Linked DNA regions of Homo sapiens. The protein of the gene in region 1 purifies or fractionates together with the protein of each later gene. This does not show direct contact. Each region holds a gene or a part of one and is shown in the gene's direction. Other genes may lie near its edges.

Evidence for each region. Proteins that work in one complex are often made in the same cells at the same time.
Region 2: the proteins of LHX1 (region 1) and AIFM1 purify together in Homo sapiens (affinity purification with mass spectrometry; one large-scale study listed by BioGRID and IntAct). This does not show direct contact.
Region 3: the proteins of LHX1 (region 1) and TMED5 purify together in Homo sapiens (affinity purification with mass spectrometry; one large-scale study listed by BioGRID and IntAct). This does not show direct contact.
Region 4: the proteins of LHX1 (region 1) and DGKK purify together in Homo sapiens (affinity purification with mass spectrometry; one large-scale study listed by BioGRID and IntAct). This does not show direct contact.

The regions. Positions count from the first base shown.
Region 1 is NC_000017.11:36,942,232-36,946,060, forward strand, and holds the end of LHX1 (LIM/homeobox protein Lhx1), read left to right. Parts: coding exon 1-134; intron 135-520; coding exon 521-900; 3' UTR 901-2,381; downstream 2,382-3,829. UniProt on the Homo sapiens protein: Potential transcription factor. May play a role in early mesoderm formation and later in lateral mesoderm differentiation and neurogenesis.
Region 2 is NC_000023.11:130,158,888-130,163,897, reverse strand, and holds part of AIFM1 (apoptosis-inducing factor 1, mitochondrial isoform AIF precursor), read left to right. Parts: intron 1-5,010. UniProt on the Homo sapiens protein: Functions both as NADH oxidoreductase and as regulator of apoptosis.
Region 3 is NC_000001.11:93,173,460-93,178,469, reverse strand, and holds part of TMED5 (transmembrane emp24 domain-containing protein 5 isoform 1 precursor), read left to right. Parts: intron 1-5,010. UniProt on the Homo sapiens protein: Potential role in vesicular protein trafficking, mainly in the early secretory pathway. Required for the maintenance of the Golgi apparatus; involved in protein exchange between Golgi stacks during assembly.
Region 4 is NC_000023.11:50,383,372-50,388,381, reverse strand, and holds part of DGKK (diacylglycerol kinase kappa), read left to right. Parts: intron 1-728; coding exon 729-828; intron 829-1,795; coding exon 1,796-2,024; intron 2,025-3,557; coding exon 3,558-3,662; intron 3,663-4,117; coding exon 4,118-4,214; intron 4,215-5,010. UniProt on the Homo sapiens protein: Diacylglycerol kinase that converts diacylglycerol/DAG into phosphatidic acid/phosphatidate/PA and regulates the respective levels of these two bioactive lipids.

The DNA.
Region 1 (3,829 bases):
GAGGATGAAGCAGCTGAGCGCCCTGGGCGCCCGGCGCCACGCCTTCTTCCGCAGTCCGCGCCGGATGCGGCCGCTGGTGGACCGCCTGGAGCCGGGCGAGCTCATCCCCAATGGTCCCTTCTCCTTCTACGGAGGTGGGTGCGCGCCGAATGGCGGGGCGCGGCCAGGTCGGGGCGGGCTTCGTTGGAAGCGGGTGGCAGCGCGGGGGGGCACGCCTCGCTCTCTGTAAGCCACTGGAGAGTTGGGGCGAGTAGGGAGAAGGCTGGGAGTAAATCAAGGGGAGGCGGCGAGACCGAGGACCCAATTCACGGCCCTGAATAACGGGGGTAGCTGGTAAGGGGCAGCTCCCGGGCTTGCGCCCAGCCTCCTCCCTGCACCCAGGCCCGCGAGGGCTCCCCGCGATCCGCGAGTTCCCCGCGCGGCCTTCCTCAGCCCGCCGAGGTCGCGTCTTCCCTCCCTTTCGGTCCCGCCGGCCCCCGGCCGGGCCCTGACGTCCTGCGCCCTCCCCGCCGCTCCGCAGATTACCAGAGCGAGTACTACGGGCCCGGGGGCAACTACGACTTCTTCCCGCAAGGCCCCCCGTCCTCGCAGGCCCAGACACCAGTGGACCTACCCTTCGTGCCGTCATCTGGGCCGTCCGGGACGCCCCTGGGTGGCCTGGAGCACCCGCTGCCGGGCCACCACCCGTCGAGCGAGGCGCAGCGGTTTACCGACATCCTGGCGCACCCACCCGGGGACTCGCCCAGCCCCGAGCCCAGCCTGCCCGGGCCTCTGCACTCCATGTCGGCCGAGGTCTTCGGACCCAGCCCGCCCTTCTCGTCGCTGTCGGTCAACGGTGGGGCGAGCTACGGAAACCACCTGTCCCACCCCCCCGAAATGAACGAGGCGGCCGTGTGGTAGCGGGGTCTCGCACGGTCTGCGGAGTTCGTGGTTGTACAGAAATGAACCTTTATTTAAGAAAAATAGAAAAAAAAAAACATAAAAAGCAAGTCCCCACCCCCTTCCTCCAGCCTCGAGAACCATTCTCCTTCTGGGGAGACCGGATGGAAAAGGGGGACACGAAATAGGATCCAAATCGGCCTCGAGGTGGGACTGGGATCCGCGCACTGGCTGTCGACGTGCAGAACTGGGGCTCCCCAAAGGAAACGCAGACCTCTCCCCAACTCCCACCTGGACCCGGATCCGTAGACAGACCCCGCGGGCGTGTGCGCCTGGCAGGCGGGCGGCGAAAAGACGTCCAGGGCAGCCGCGGGTGCGCACAGCCGTTGGCGATGCCAGGAGCCGTGGGGAGGGAGGCCGTGAGCACAGCCGGGTGAAGGAAGTGAAGCGGCCCAGGGCGCTCCCGGGCCAGCCAGGAGGGTTCTAGCTCTGGGATATCCCTTATTAGTGTTGTCTCAGAGTTCAACAACAGCGACAAAAAACTCTTATAGCTTCAGAAACGCCGACCTGCCGTGCATCAGGTGGGACTATATATATATTTTTTGTCTATCTGGATTTTTGGTTTTTGTTTTTGCCAAAATTGCAAAATTCTAAATGTAAAGCCCTCCGTATCAACTCTTCTACCTTCGCAAAACTACACATACACACATACACACGTACACGGACACACTCGGTAAGATGGTCTCCAGCCAGACCGCTCAGTAAAATGACTTGAACATCAGCTGTACAAGAAAAGTATTCTACCTTCACACACAAAAAGTTAAAAAAAAAAAAAAAGACTATTGAACTAAAAACAGTCAACTGTTTACGTATAATGTTAAATTCAGGAGTTCAGTGTTTTACTAATATATCCTGTTTTGAAACCTCTTGTTCGAAAACAAAATGTTTTGAGCAATCAACCAAAATTGTTCCTTTTCTTTTCCTGTAGATGTTCTGACAGATTTGCAGGGCTTTCGGCTCACTGTGCTAGTATGTAAAAAGGTGTTGTTTACACGAGGCAAAGAGAAAACATGCTATTCAGACAGTTGCCAAATAGAATAATTATAGCACAAATACTGTAAAGGTGCCTGGCACCAGCAACCTGAGAAAGTGTTAAAAAAAAAAAAAAAAAAGTGTTACAAGATTTAAAAAAAAACATCTTTGCTAATTTTTTTGTCCTGTTGAACATTCATGGAATTGTTAATATGACTTATATAGACCCACACAGGTTTTATTTTTGTGTCTTTAAAATAAAAGTCCAAAATATTTAAATTTTATGGTCAAATATGCAGTCAACAGCTGCTACTTTTTCTTTATATATTAAATTTCTCATATGTCTTTTATTGTTCTAATAAACCTAAGCTTGTGTGACCTCCAGTGCATATTAGACCATTCACTGTATGAAAGAAAACATGTTGAATAAATTTGTGAGTTTTTAATAAAAATAGAAAATCTGATGTTTAGATAATTGGTGTGTTATTTGATGTTTTCAAAGGGGAACCCTGATGGGGAGCTGAATGGGTCCTCAGAAGCCAGGTGGAAAAGAGAGGCAGGATTGGGATGATATATCTGTTTTTGCCTTGGCTATGGCTGAAACCTTTTGCTAATGCCAGCCAAGCTTTTCTCTGTGGCTTCCTGCTGTTATTAGCTACAGATTTACATCCTGTGGATTTAACTGATACCGTTGAAGAGATGTTTGCTGATAAGTTAATATAGAATTTGAAATAGAAATCAAATCCATGGCTAAAAAATGAGTGGTCCAGGTCTGTGATTAGGCATAAGATCCAAGGCATTCCCTCTTTCACTCTCCCTGCACATGCAAAACTGGGCTTGTATCAGATACTTGTAATACATAGTTAGAGGTGGTCCTTTTCAGTTTCATTTCATTTCCTATAGATAATCCGGCTTTCTAATTTGGTAGTTTGAAAGATAATGTAAAGGCTTTCTAATTTGGTGGTTTGAAAGATAATGTAAAATGAATGTATAGTACAGCTAGAAATGAAATACTTTAATCCCTTTCACAGAACTGATATGAAATTGTTGTTTTATAGTATTTGTTACCTTTGAAGTTCCCCAGAAGGAAAACTATTTTGCCTGGCACAAGATACATATTAAGTTTCTCTGAAAGATGAACAAAAATAACTAATATCAAAATCAAATTTCAACTCAAAAGGTTCTAAAAGTAGCTCGATTCTTTCCAGTCCTTCATTAGACTTGGAAGAAATTTGAATATTTTATCTACTATGAAATATTCTTGTGGATGTGTGTGTGTTTCAGTATCAGATGCTATTAGAGTTCCAGGATTTCTTTTCCATATCACCTAGATTTCACTCTGGATTATTTATTTCCTTATTTAAAAAGTCAAAGGTTTGACATTAAATGGTATATAATTTCCAGTGCTGTTTTCAAATTTTGTTAAGACACAGCCAAGTTTATCTTTCCTGCAGAGAAGGCTTTAAAATAAGCAATATTTCACTGCATCCATATGATGGCTTATCTAATGGGGGAGGAGGCTATCCGGGAGGAATCTGGCAGTGTTCTTTCAGAAATAAAAATGTATGAAATACAGAGGAGACTTTTGAAACTCCCAGCCTCTGCATGCAGCACATTTCTTTATTTGCTTTATATGCAATCACTGGATCGGCTTGTTTTTACCTTTTTAGCATTTATACACATTAAATCCTAGCTAACTTATTCATTATAGCCTCTACTCCCTAGCCCCCTTTAAAGACATTCATTTAAATGAACTGCGCTCACTGGGAAGCTGCATTTTCCTATCAAGGCTGCTGAATTATTTAGCAGCTTTATTGTGCAATCGGGGTATTTGATAAGAAGCGTTTTCGAGTTGGGCACACGATGTGGATTCGATTCTTCTAACAACGTGGTTGTGGCGCAGTCTCTCCCCTCGTCG
Region 2 (5,010 bases), on another chromosome or scaffold:
AGGCGTGAGCCACCGCGCCCGGCGATAACCTGAATTTTTTCATCCACACTGGCCTTTCAAACTTTGAGTAGTTGTTTTGCTTAAGTCTCACAACTTTTACCAGCATTCTAAAGTCTGACCAAAAGTTCTCATCAATTAAATATGCATTTGCAAAGTTAAGTTGATTTATTAGACATTGGAAAGTGGTTGGTGTTGTTAGAACTACTGAAAAATACAGACTCAAATGGTTTTTTCCACTGCATGTCTTTGTTTGAAGGCAGTCTACTGTAGAATATATTCGGACTTCCTGACATATCCATCCATCTCTTTGCATACACTTGTTCTTTGTCCTTTGGCCGTGCACCAAAGTATGACATCATCTGCCTTTAAAAATGGGTGAGGGTAGTGTTAAATTTTCAAAAAGAAGTTCTGATACTCTCATTTTAGGAATTAACTCTGTTTTGTGGCTTGATTCCTAACTGCTTTTAATCTGATTTCTTTTTCATGTAGTAGCATCTACCGTGTGTTTTTGCACAGGTGGGAAAGAGCAAGGTTCGTTTATACACCATTTCTCCCTCCACCTTACCTTTAAACTTTTTTTTTTTTTTTTTTTTGAGGCGGAGTCTCGCTCAGTTTCCCAGAGTGCAGTGGCACGATCTTGGCTCACTGCAACCTCTGCCTGCTGGGTTCAAGCAATTCTCCTGCGTCAGCCTCCCAAGTAGCTGGGACTACAGGCATGCACCACCACGCCGGGCTAATTTTTTGTATTTTTAGTAGAGACGGGGTTTCACCATGCTGGCCAGGCTGGTCTCAAACTCCTGACCTTGTGATCCACCTGCTTCAGCCTCCCAAACCTTTAAACTTTAAACCTGCCTTGCAACTATCTCGTTGACATCTGTCACCATTGTCAGGTTCATTTCCATTATATGTTGCATTCTGCCTTAAAACCATGATAGCTACTATTTGTTTATTTACTTTATTTATTTGGATGCTCTGCCTCCTTCCAGAGATGATTGAAGGTAACTCATAGTCATCACTCTATGTCTGCATTCAGACACAGAGGAGCAGATAGGTTAGATAATAGACATTTTCTGTTCTATAATATTTTGTTTGGTCACCAAACAGTGCTGCCCATGTTATCAAACTGATCACCGACTCCCTGACTTTAGGTTCAAATGTTTGAACGTTTTTCTCTATTTGGAATCCTTCTCACCTCTTTAAAAAGGAAACTGAGCTCCTTGTGGGCAAGGATCCTGGCTTCCTGGACACTGCCAAATGTGACTTCGTTTTGAAGCCTAAAAGATGAGTCTTCCCCCGTTGTTTCTGCTGAGACAAGGCTTTGCAGAAGAAATTCTTTGGCAGCTCAGCCCTTTCTGTAACCAGTTAATAAGTTACATTTTCTAGAAATGTTCTAACTTTTTGAGGGAGTTACTGCATGTCTTAGCTTTCTTCTAGATCATGTTTCCAAAAGTTGCCTGCTCATGTGAATCGAGTAGAGAACCAGTTCCTAACCTTCTCCAGGAGATAATTCTGGGAATCTGTATTTTAACAAGCCCCTTGACATTCATATGATCAGACAAGTTTGGTATATACTGTTTTGGATGAGTAGTGACTCTTCCCCTTCTGTTTTGCTGACGTAAGGATTAAAAAACCAAACTGAGCAATCTGGAGTCTCTTGTGATTTGTATCAAGCTCATTTTCTCATATTCAGAATAGTAGCAGCCATTCTCCTAAATTAAACACTACCTGAGGACATGGATTATGTCCTATTTATTTTTGTGTCCTTAGCATCTTGTACCATCTCTGGCACATGGTAAATTCTCGTGACTGAACCCTAGTACAGCATTGTGAAGGACTTAACTTTGCAGAAGAGAGATTTTATTTTGTTATCTAAATAATTTTTCCTTGTGTGTCTTTCATCAGAATGGTTCACGCTGTACTATAGTTATTACTACTCTGTTTCTTCTAAAATTCCAGCAAGGGTTGATATTAAAAAATTAAAAAAGGCTGATAGCTAGGCGTGGTGGCTCACGCCTGTAATCCCAGCACTTTGGTATGCCAAGGTGGGCAGATCACTTGAGGTTGGAAGTTCAAGACCAGCCTGACCAACATGGAGAAACCCCGTCTCTACTAAAAATCAAAAATTAGCCAAGCGTGGTGGCACATGCCTGTAATCCCTGCTACTCGGGAGGCTGAGGCAGGAGAATTGCTTGAACCCGGGAAGTGGAGGTTGCGGTGAACCGAGATCACACCACTGCACTCCAGCCTGGACGACAGAGCGAGAATCTGTCTCAAAAAAAAAAAAAAAAGGCTGATAAATAGTTGTTGGATCCCTTGTAAAGAATCATTTATCTACAATGGACAGACTATCTAGGCTTGTCCTGTGTTTTTTTTTTTTTTTTTTTCTTCAAACAGAGTCTTGCTCTGTTGCCCAGGCTGGAGTGCAGTGACACAATCTCAGCTCACTGCAACCTCTGTCTCCTGGGTTCAAGTGATTCTCCTGCCTCAGCCTCCCGAGTAGCTGGGATTACAGGCACCTGCCACCACGCCCAGCTAATTTTTGTATTTTTAGTGGAGACGGGGTTTCACTGTATTGGCCAGGCTGGTCTCGAACTCCTGACCTCGTGATCCGCCCACCTCGGCCTCCCAAAGTGCTGGGATTACAAGTGTGAGCCACCGCACCTGGCTGTCCTGTGTTTTCTCCATGCTGGAAAAATCAGTTTGACCCTCAGGAAACAAGTCTCAAGAACGTATAGATCTCTTAACCATTTAGGATCCCTGGGTGCCTCAATTGTGAAGTTGTGTTTTTGGAAAACGCCTTTTGGGAGTATGGAAAAACAGGAAATCACAAAACCTACAGAAATGAACTTGCTAGTTTAGCTACTATTCTAATGCTGGTCTATGGTGTTTGAGGTTACTCATTTATGATTAAGCAACCTAAAATAAATGGAATCTGGCTAAAGCTTTTTTTAAAAAAAACTCTTAAGTTTATTTTTTCATTTTATTTATTTATTTATTTATTTATTTATTTATTTTTAAGTAGAGACGGGGTTTCACCATGTTGGCCAGGCTGGTCTCAAACTCGTGGTCTCAAGTGATCCACCAACCTCGGCCTCCCAAGGTGCTGGGATTACAGATGTGAGCCACCGCGCCTGCCCTGGCTAAAATTTCTTTGCAAAGAATTATTTAAAATGTTCAGTTATCCGGGCACGATGGTGCATGCCTGTAGTCCCAGCTATTCTGGAGGCTAAGGTGGAAGGATCACTTGAGCCCAGGAGTTTGAGTCTAGTCTGGGCAACATACTGATACCTTTTCATTTAAAAAAAATTTTAATAGTAATAAGAATGTTCAGTCAATATCAATAGAATTAGGAAGAATTTCTATTTCCTTCCTTCATTAATTCAACAAATATTTATTGAGCAAACATCTGTGTGTCGTCTGGCGCTGTTGCACAGGTCAAACTGGCTTCTTAAGAATGAAATCCTAAGTGTGAGGAAGAAATTGCATTGTATGTGTGGTCTGACTGCAGAAAACCTAAAATAAGTAAACTGCTGCCATGATGAAAAGTCAAGGAGTAAGTTGGCTTTTCCATGTTAGTAAGACAAGTGAAAAGGCATGTTTCAGTCACGATGTAATATTTCCTAAAATTTTGAAGCTATGGGGAGAAAGGTTTGGGAGGAATTTCATAGGGAAAAGAAAATGTGGGGAGGGGGAATGTAAGCAAACAATACTTAGTACATTTTACAAAATTAAAGTCACTTTGTAGGTATATAAAAAGTTTTAAAAGTTGGTTTATTAATGAGAGTAGTGTATTACATTTCTTTTCAAGCAGTAGTTTAAATATTAACCAGTTTACTTTTTTTTAAAGTCAATTTACTTTTCCAGCCTGGACAACATGGTGAAACCTCGTATCTACAAAAAATAGAAAAATTAGCTGGGCGTTGGTGGCTCACGCCTGTAGTCCCAGCTACACAGGAGGCTGAGGCTGGTGAATGGCTTGAGCCCAGGAAGCATAGGTTGCAGTGAGCCGAGATTGTGCCACTGCACTCCAGCTTGGGGACAGAGTGAGACCCTGTCTCAAAAAAAAAAAGTCCATTTACTTTTAAATGCTTTTTTCTTTTTTTTTTGGCAAATTGAGACAAAAGCTGCTGAACTTTCCTAAATCTACACTGTTAGTATTATCAGTTTGTGAAAAGCAAGCAGAAGGAGAATAAACATGAGTATGATATTAAAACAAATTTGTTATAATGTCTGTATTTAGGGTCTTCTGGAGGAATAAACAGAATTAAAAAAAAGAAAAACAAAAACAAAAAAAATTTATTTTTAGTAAATGAACCAGGGGTAGAGGTGGAGGACAAACTAAATTCATTGAACTAAATCACATGGAACTTTTCCTAACCAGTTTCATTTTCTAAGCTCTGAGAGTTACCACTTTCTACTTCTGATGGTTCATTATTTTTGTAAGCTTCTGAAAATCAAAAGCTTGCCCAGATTGAGATAAGTTTCTGCCCCGCTCACGTTTTTATTTTCATGATTTGTCATTATTTCCAAATCTCAACCATTTTATTTCATGTGGTGATGAAGAGTTCTAAAAGCAGGTAAGAAGAACAGTAAAGAAAAATACATTTCCTTTTCTAAGAGTGTAGATCTAAAGTCTCTTATCTGTAATTCAGAAATTGAAATTGTAGAATGACCAAAATTTAAGACTATCAAGTTTTCATAACTCATTTGCCAGTAAAACCTGACCTGAACTGGAGAGAGGCTACTTTATAATCTTTTTAAAATATCACTTAGCGTGATTGGTCATATTAATATGTTTAACTATGAATTGCTGCCCTTTACCTTGCTAGGTGTCACTATGTGGTATATGCCCCATATACTTAAGACCAGATAATTCAAAGTTCCAAATTATACATGGTCCCCAGGATTTCAGATGAGAGACCACAGATCCACATTGGGCTTGTTTTTACCCGTCTGTGGCCTAACGTTATGAAAGCAAGGGGGAAATTCCTTCTCTAATCTCTGCAAGTA
Region 3 (5,010 bases), on another chromosome or scaffold:
ACCAGTAGAGGAGGGTCACTTCTAAGGGTTTCAGAAGAGGATTCCTGGAGAAAATAAAATTTAATCCAGAAAGATGCTTAATTGAGACGAAAATGCCAGGAACAAGGGGCATTTCAGAAAAGCGAACAAAAAGATCCATAGTTCTTAAAATACATAGTGTAAGTGGGGATGGTTAGTGTGTAGTGGACACTACAAGTACTGAGTTTGTATTAGACTTTAAGACATATAAAGTCTAGGGTGGGAGTAGCAGAAAAGGACATCGGAGAGGCCAGAAGGCTGGGGTCATTAAGCATGAATCATAGCCTTGTTTGCCGTGCTGAGTAGGTTTTCCTTAATTTTGTACAAGTCCATTTAAGATTTAAGCAGATCACTGGATGCAGTGTGGAAAATGGATTTAAGGAGAGCAAAATTAGAGTCAAGGAAACTAACTAGAGGGCTAGTGAAATAGTCTAGATAAGAAAACAATTTGTATTAATAAAAAAATCTTCAGTATTTACACACATATTAGGGAAGATATCTATTTTAACTACTGTCCTCTTATAGTTAAGAGCACCAGCTCTTAACCTTAGCCTGGGTTCAAATCTTGACTCTGCCTACTTAAAACTTATGTGATCTTCTCACTTGTAAAATAGAGATAATAATTGTAACTACATCATAGAGTTGATTTGAAAAAGCATGAGTTAATAAATGCTCATATTCAGTGTAAAGTAGTCTATTAAAAAATGCTCATAGATCATCCCTGACACATAGTAAATAATCAATGAATGTTAATTTTACATTTATACCTCTATAGTTATGTAGCTGGCTTGGTTTAGCTTTATTCTTTACATCTTTAGTCACTCTTAAAGGGACTGTTCCTTTTTTTTTTTTTTTTTTTTTTTTTTTGAGACAGAGTCTCCCTCTGTCACTCTGTTACCCAGGCTGGAGTGCAGTGGCGCGACCTTGGCCCACAGCAACCTTCATCTCCCGAGTTCAAGTGATTCTCCCGCCTCAGCTTCCCGAGTAGCTGGATTACAGGCATGTGCCACCACACCCAGCTAATTTTTGTATTTTTAGTAGAGACGGGGTTTCACTATGTTGGCCAGACTGGTCCCAAACTCCTGATCTCAAGTGATCTGCCAGCCTCAGCCTCCAAAGTGCTGGGATTATAGGTGTGAGCCACCGCGCCCGGCTGGGACTATTCCTTTAAAACATTCTCCCTAAACAATTTGTTTTGATTAAGGAAAGAGGTAAAATCATTTGTCTGTAATCCTAGACAGTGTTGGTGAGATGTGTAGGGTAACTATCATCTTCCACCCTGTTTGTATTTCCCAACTTGTTTAATTTCCCAGTAACTACATCCTACTAATTTTTGTCTTAAAGTTAGTTTTTAAAATTTTATAGAACAATCTAGTTTTGTCCTTGGTTACTTATTGAAAATTTTACTAATTTCTTACTTTTTAGGTTTTAGGAGAATACTTTTTGGATAATTGACTAGCCTCACATTATATTGATAGAGGTTCTTGAAAACTTTAATGCCAATTCATGTATCTTATGACTAAAATAGATAATCCATTTAGAAATTTAAGTCATTCTTGCGTGCTTGATATGTGTCAGCACTATCCAAGTTGCTAGGGATACAATGGTGAGTGAAAATATCAGCTAGGTGCAGTGGCTCACACCTGTAATCCCAACAGTTTGGGAGGCCAAGGTGGGAGGATCACTCAAGCACAGGCGTTTCACACCAGCCTGGACAACATAGCAAGACCCCATCTCTACCAAAAATAAAGTTAGCCAGGCATGGTAGCACACACTTGTGGTTCCAGCTACTTGGGAGGCTGAGGTGGGAGGATCACTTGAGCCCAGGAGGTTGAGGCTATGGTGAGCTGTGATCACACCACTGTACTCCAGCCTCGGTGACAAGAGCGAGACCCTGCCTCAAAAAAATATATATATATATGTTTGTGTGTGTGTGTGTGTGTATAGTCTGTGCCCTCATACAATCAAGTATTAATTAATCAAATTATTACACAAATACATGTCAAAATATTTACTAGGGGTAATGAAGGTAAGTTCATAAGACTATGAGTGGGCTCAGTAGGAGGACTTCATTTTATCTGGAAATTGAAAGACATCCAGAAGTAGAGTTAAGATCTACAGAATTATCAGACTTTCACTAGGCATAATGGAATGAGTGGTACGAGACAATGGGTAAAAAAGAACAACAACGTGCCAAGATACTAAGGAAGAAGAGAGAAAGATACCTTTGAGGTCCTGAAAGATAGGATACAGAGAGAGAAAAGTGGTACAAGTCTACTTTAGAGAAGTCAGTAGCAACAGCAACCAAATCATTGTGGGCTTTTAGGTCCTTGTTAAGGATATGGGTCTTTTGCAGAGACCAGTAATACGCCACTGAATAGTTATAAGCAGGTTAACTCGATCTGTGTTTTTTAAAAGATCGTTTTGGCCACAAGGTATTGAGCCTCTCTGTACCAGTTTCTATACTTTAACAGTAATCACCTGCTCCCCACTATATATTATTGTGAAGAATAAATATGCTAATACATGTAAAAGGAATGGTATCTAGCACCAAATAAGCACTCAAAAAATGTTAGCTAGAAAATAAACCCTGAGCCTAGAACAACAATACTTTTTTAAGGGCATAATAGGCACTAAAAAGTATCTATTGAATGAGTGAACCAGACGTTTACCAAACATGTAAAACTATCTGGGTGAGTTTTTGGGAGAATATAGCTATATCAATTTTTAAAAATTTTTATTAGTCTTTCATTTTTGTATAGAGCCAAATTTCAATATTTTCTGGTAAACTGGCCATTTCATCTAATTTTTAAAATTTACTTGTATAATATACCTGATGCCATTTGGAATATCTCCTATTTCCATTTTATCTACAGGTATACATGCCTAATATTACATGTATAAAGTAGATAGGACTACTTTATTGATCTTTGGGAAAAAATGTCTTTTGAGTATTTATTATTTTTTGTTTTATATACATACACACACATATCTATTATATATACACACATTTTATACATATACAAAATATATAATATATTCATATACATATAAATGTATATGTATATATAAATATGTATATAAAAAAACAAAAACTCAAAAGCCATATATGTGTGTGTGTGTGTGTGTGTGTGTATATATATATATATATAGGCATAAGGGAGTAAGTGGAACAAGACAATGGATTAGAAGGCACAACATGTGCCAAGATACTAAGGAAGAAGAGTGAAAGATACCTTTGAGGTCCATTTATATATATATATATATATATATATAAATGGCTTTTAAGTATTATATAAATATATATATATAAATGGCTGGGTTTTGGGGAGAATAATATATTTAATAATTTAATATATATATTTGGGTTTTATGTGAGTCTGTGTGTGTGTATATATACTTTTTTTTTTTTTTTAAGAGATAGGGTCTCCAGCAATCCCATTACTGGGTACACACCCAGAGGAATATAAATCATTCTACCATAAAGACACATGCATGCGAATGTTCAGTGCAACACTATTCACAATAGCAAAGACATGGAATCAACTAAATGCCCAGCAATGACAGTTTGGATAAAGAAAATGTGGTACATATACACCATGAAATACTATGCAGCCATAAAAAAGAATGAGATCATGTCTTTTGTGGGAATATGGGTTGAGCTGGAGGCTATTATCCTTAGCAAACTAACACAGAAACAGAAAACTAAATACCACGTGTTCTCACTTAGAAGTGAGAGCTAAATGGTAAGAACTTATGAACACAAAGACGGAAACAACAGACACTGGGATTTACTTGAGGAGGGAGGGTGGAAGGACAGAGAGGCACAGAAAAGTTAACTATTGGGTACTGGGCTTTATATCTGGGTGATGAAATACTAAGTTGGTGCAAAAATAATTGTGGTTTTTAACACGTTTACCTATGTAACCTTCACATGTATCCCCAAGCCTAAAATAAAAGTTAAAAAAAAGAGAGATATGGGGTCTCACTATGTTGCCTAGGCTGAATTTGAATTTGGGCACAAGTGATACTCCCACTTCAACCAGCCTCCTGGGTAGCTGGGACTACAGGCACATGCCACCACACCTGTCTCCTTTATGAATTTTTTTACTTCCAATTATAAAAGTAATATACAACCTCCTTAGAGTAAGTCAAACAATACAAAGATGTAAAAGCAAAAAAAGCTGGGTGCGGTGGCTCACACCTGTAATCCCAGCATTTTGGGAGGCCAAAGTGGGTGGATCACGAGGTCAGGAGTTGGAGACCAGCCTGACCAACATGGTGAAACACCATCTCTTAAAAAAAAAGAAAAAACAAAAAACAAAAATTAGCTGGGCGCAGTGGTGCGCGCCTGTAGTCCCAGCTACTCGGGAGGCTGAGGCAGGAGAATCACTTGAACCCGGAAAGCAGAGATTGCAGTGAGCCGAGATCGTGCTGCTGCACTCCAGCCTGGGTGACAGAGTGAGACTCCATCTCAAAAAAAAAACAAAAAAAAACCTCTTTGTAACTCTATTGAATGCCTGTTGTCATTCTCCTAGATGTGAACTCTTCCACACCTTTTCCCATACTCATAAAAACATATAGGGTTTGATGGGGTGAAACACATATGATTATTTAATTAAAATGTCATGGTCTTTAAGTCCTTACAAAGTTTTTACCAATAGGTAAACAAACCAAATCAGTTTTTAATAAGGAAGTCTATTGGTTCATATAACTGGAAGTCTGAATAGGACTGATTTCAGGCTTAATTTGTTTTCCTCTGGTTCTTACGGCTCTGCTCTCTTGACTTTTCTTAAAGAATTGAATTACTTAAAGAATTCTTCACTGACAGATATTTTTCCTAAATGCATCAAAACTAGTATTTTATTGTCTTCTGACTTCGATTATAGCTGTTGAAGCTTCCTGTCAGTTTGTTATATATTTGTAGTTCATCTCTATTTTCTCTTGTAGCTTTTTAAATTTTCTGCTTCTGCATTTTCACTGCAGTTTAAG
Region 4 (5,010 bases), on another chromosome or scaffold:
GAAAGTTTAGGAAAGAAAGATGACATTGAGGTGAAGTCGTCTGCTGCTCCAAAAAGTCAAAATTGCAAGCCAGAGATTTGGGAAGAGAATTATAGTAGGGAAACACAACATTATAGACCATTTAGGAGCATAGCATAGCTCCCTATAGTATAGACACCTTGCTTTCCGTCTTTGACATTAAGAAAGGTCTCTGCAATATCTGCCTATAGCTGCTTTCTCATAACCTGAGGAACACATTCCCCCTTCTAAATATGTGGGTCATTTGTTTCTTCTGGGACTTCTTAGGGGGCTCCTGCCCAGTCGACTACACTCTCCTTTGAGAAAAACTTCCCACAGGGAGAGTCCTCCCAATATAATTGTTTGTACTAAATTAGCTGGGCCCTTGAAACATAGCTGATTGAACCTAGGTGAAAACCTGACCCAAGTTGGACCAAGTGAATTCTCTTTTCTGGAAATTCAGAATTAGTACTAAGAAATGCTGGTCAAGCTCTATTAGGTTCTTGACTTGGGAAGTGGTGTGACACTGAACTAAAGTGGGGATGGAACATATTTCACCATATGCACAGGAAAAAAAAAGCAGAGAGAAAAAGGCTGGGAGCAGAGGGTGAGAGAAAGAGGACAGATCAGGAAAGAGAGAGAGGAGGAGGATGGGGACTGATGACATAAGAGAGAAGGGCTCTGGGCCTCATGGTTCATGTAACATTGTGCCATCTATTTTATCTTTCCAGATTCTTGTGTTCAGCTGTGGAAGATTTTGTGGTTGATATTGTAAAGGCCTGGGGTCAGATAAAACAGAACAACACTGCAATAGTGTCTGTGATTTTGAAAGTAAGTTCCCATTCCTTTTGTCTTATACTCTTTGTGGAGCAGCCAGGGGCCCTTTTTAATAAAAAGCAAACATGCCTCTCACTGGGAATGGTAAAAGAAAGGAAAGGAGGGGCAGCTGTTAAGCCTCCCTGATGAGGAAGGTCTAACCTCATTGAACTTCCATCTTTTGCTAAATGAAGGATGGCGCTCTGCATGCATACACACATACCATGTACATGCCAAGCATCTGCCCACAACTAGACACAAGTGTACATCAAGCAGGTATGTGCATGGTTGTACACCAGAACATGCTTACAAGTATGTACATACGAATACACACTACAAATACATTCACATTTACCTCTCTAACAACAATAGCCAACATTTATATAGCACTTACTCTGTGTCAAGGACTGTTCTGTTTTTAATGTATTAATGTATTTATTCCTCACAACTACCCTAGAATATGGAGGCACAAAGCGGTTAAGAAACTTGCCTCAGATCGCAAACTATTAAGTGATGGAGCTAAGAATCAAGGCCTTAAATCATGCAGCAGATGTAGGTCCCCAAGCCTGTACACATACAAAGACACACACCAAGCACCCAAGCAGGGACACGTTCATATCCAGAGGAGCGTGCCCATGAAAATCCAGAAATATTTGTCTTTCCTCAAGTTTGCATGTTATACATTGTTTTATAGGCCCGTTTGACACAAGAAAGACTCAGCTATATACACTGATGCATGGGGCCACTCAGAAACAAATGATATGTGTTTGATCTCCTAACACCCTTTGGTTATCTCATCACATCTTCCCACCTACTTCTTTTGCTAAGTACTTCATCTTCTCACATGTGGTTTTCTATGCTCAGCATTTATGGACAACTCTTACCCCTCCCTACCCTTCCCCATATCACCACCACTCCTCATTCTGTCCTCTCAAGCATGGGTCCCTCATAACAATGCCCTGTCTCCTTCCTTTCTATATAGAGTGACTTAATGTATGATAGGCTCAGTGTCCTGATCGATGTCCTGGCTGAGGAGGCAGCAGCTACTTCTGCTGAAAAAAGTGCTACAGAATATGCAGACAGCAGCAAGGCAGATAGGAAGCCCTTCATTCCTCAAATAGACCACATAGCCAAGTGCAAGTTGGAGCTGGCTACAAAGGCCCAGAGTCTCCAGAAATCCTTGAAACTCATCATATTTCAAGTTGAACAAGGTAAGGTGGCCAGGGTTGTAGTGACTGAGGTAGGGGAAAGAAAAAGTTCCAGAGGATGGTTTACTGGCCTCACTGACTCCGGGTTTGCTCTCTGACTCTGCTACAAAAAGTCTAGATTCTGCATTCATATTGTATACAAAGTCAGTATTCAGACTACTGATTTGAAAAGCCTCAGTCCTGCTAAGCTGCCCCTTTGGCTCCTCCTACCTCCCAGACAGTCAACTCCTGCTACTCATTTTTGGAAACCAACACTCATCCTATACAATTATATTAATAGATGCTAAGTGACCTGGTTCAAAGCTCTATCAGCTTCCACCACCAGCCATAAGACTTTTTTCCTCCTTCTCCTGTTTCTTTCCAACCACTGAGCCTATGACTATTTTAGAAAGAAAATGGTGTTCAACTCTGCATGTGTTGCACATGATTAATCAGGCACAAGGGCCCTGAGAGTGGTCCTGACAGTTCTAGCATTAATTACCATTGCTCAGAACTCACGACAGTCTGCAAACTTCCCAACTCAGAATGAAAACTCTTCAACTCCCTCAGTTTCTTCATTGAATGTTTTGCTGACCACTTCTTTCCCACAATACTTTGAGAAACAGATCAGAAGGTGGTATAAGAATGAGTGTATTCTAACTGAACTATTGGAACTGAGCAGAAGTCCCATGCAGCAAGGAAGTCCCTTTGGCTGGCCCTTGACTTTTAGCCATGGTGCCTTGCCCTGCCTTGGTACCTTCACGTACAACCTCAGCCAAGTTTCCTAGAAAGAAAGAAAATCTCCCTTCTGCACAGTGGAAGGATTAAACAATCAATTTGCCTCTATTTCTATAATTAGTTTCCAAGCAGTGTGGATCAGATTAAACGGATGTAGCCATAACTGTCGCAACCAACCCTCAGTCTGCTCCATCAACACATATGTTAGATTTAGAGGTGTAGCTTGTGGCTATGAGATAGGAAAATACCTCCCTGGTAGGGGTAGAGATTGAACCTATGAGCTTTGACACAGGCTGAGACTGGGCATCTCAGCTATACAACATTTGGCTGGTGAAAGGAAAGAGACTTCCCAAATGTTCCAGGTGTGGAGTGAGACATTAGAGTGAAAGAGTGGCACAGTCCTAGAGGCTCAATTATAGACAAAAGCCACATAAGTAAATGAACTAATAGAATGGAGGTAGAAGAGCAGAGAGTTTCCCATGCTGATACCCCAATCCACAGCCACAAGCTTCTACTCACAACCACATGTACTGGGTGAGAGAAAAAAGAGTAACCAGTAAAACAAAGAAAGCTCAGGCATGAATATGAAAAAACAGCAACACTGTAAGCAAGCTGAGACTACAAACAGTATCATGGAGGAGACGTGATGGTCGAATGGGAGTCTCCATCATCTACCCACTAACTAAACAAAATAGATGCTCGATAAATGTTCAATAAGTGTAATTAATCTTTCCTTCCTTCCATCCTCCCTCCCTCCTTTCTTCCTCCCTCCCTTCCTCCTTTCTTTTTTGCTTTCCTTCCTCCCACTTTTCTCTATAGCTCTGGATGAGGAAAGCAGACAGACAATATCTGTTAAGAACTTTAGTTCAACTTTCTTCCTGGAAGATGACCCAGAAGATATTAACCAGACAAGCCCACGACGCCGTAAGGATCTTTCTGTCTTCTTCCCTTATTCTAGCCTTCGTCACTGTTGTTTAGCTCCCAAAGAATAAATATGTATTTTTTATGCATCCTCTTTTAGCCATAATCCTGCAGTAGATACCCCTCCGTCTTTCCCAGAAACTCACACTATAAGATCCCATGCCAATGTCCAGAGTAATGACCCCATTAGGAACATTGAAGAGGCTGGCCTGATGAAATACAAGATTTGAAGTTGTTTTCACTGCCAGCAAGCAAGCAGCCCAGCTTTATTCTTCTCTCAGTGGAAGTCCCTATCCATCCAAGAGGATCCCTCTTTGGAATTAGAACCCTTAATATTATCTAGGAGAAAGTCACTGAGCTTGACCCTGCCTCCACAGAGAAAATAGGGCGAAATACAAGTGAGGGGAAAGGGCTTTTTTGTTTGTATCCGTCACCCAAGTGATGTCTTTTGTGTCTAGGTTCTCGTCGTGGCACTTTGTCTTCTATATCTTCTCTCAAAAGTGAGGACCTGGACAACCTTAACTTGGATCACTTACATTTTACACCTGAATCTATGTAAGTATTTAACTCTATCACCTTTTAATGGCTTCTTTCTTTCTCTTGTTAAGAGCACAATCTTAGGATATCCATAGTCAAATCCTTTCTCTTACTTACTAGCTGTGTCACCTACGCAAGTGACTAAACCAGTGTGAGCCTCAGTTTTCTCATATGTAAAATGAAGACCATTGTAGAACTTGCATCATGGGTTTGCTGTATTTATTACATTTATATATGAAAAGTACTTGCACTGAGTAGTGCTTGGCACCCATAATTAAGTGTTATATGCATTTGCAGTTATTATTGTTATTATTATAAATAATTAATAAATGTTAGTTGTTGTTATTACAGAGGACTTGCTTTTTTTCACTGTTGCCCTTAACAGTAAATGGTTGAAGATACTAAAAACTAAAATGGTCACTAGGGGACTAGGCAGCAAATCTAAGGACATCTGTCTCACCAGTTCTCCCTCTTTAGAATATCGGCAGCAGCCAAGTTCTGCCACACTCACTCATTCTGAGTTCCATTAAGAAGATCAGTTTGGACATTAGTTAGAGAAACTCCAATCTCTGGACTGTGGTTGAGGGAGGCAAATCTCATGTGAGAGATGTAAGGTCAGTATGGTAATGAATAAAAAAGTAATCTAAGATTAAACAGCTAAACTGTATCCATTTAATTTCTCAAAAGGACACAGCTAGAAATTATTTATGTTTTCTTAAATAATTTATTTAAGAAAACAATTTTTATTCCTGTCTCCAACCCGCATTCTTGCCCCCACACTTCACCATTGGCTCAAATTTATGTCTGAGCTCTC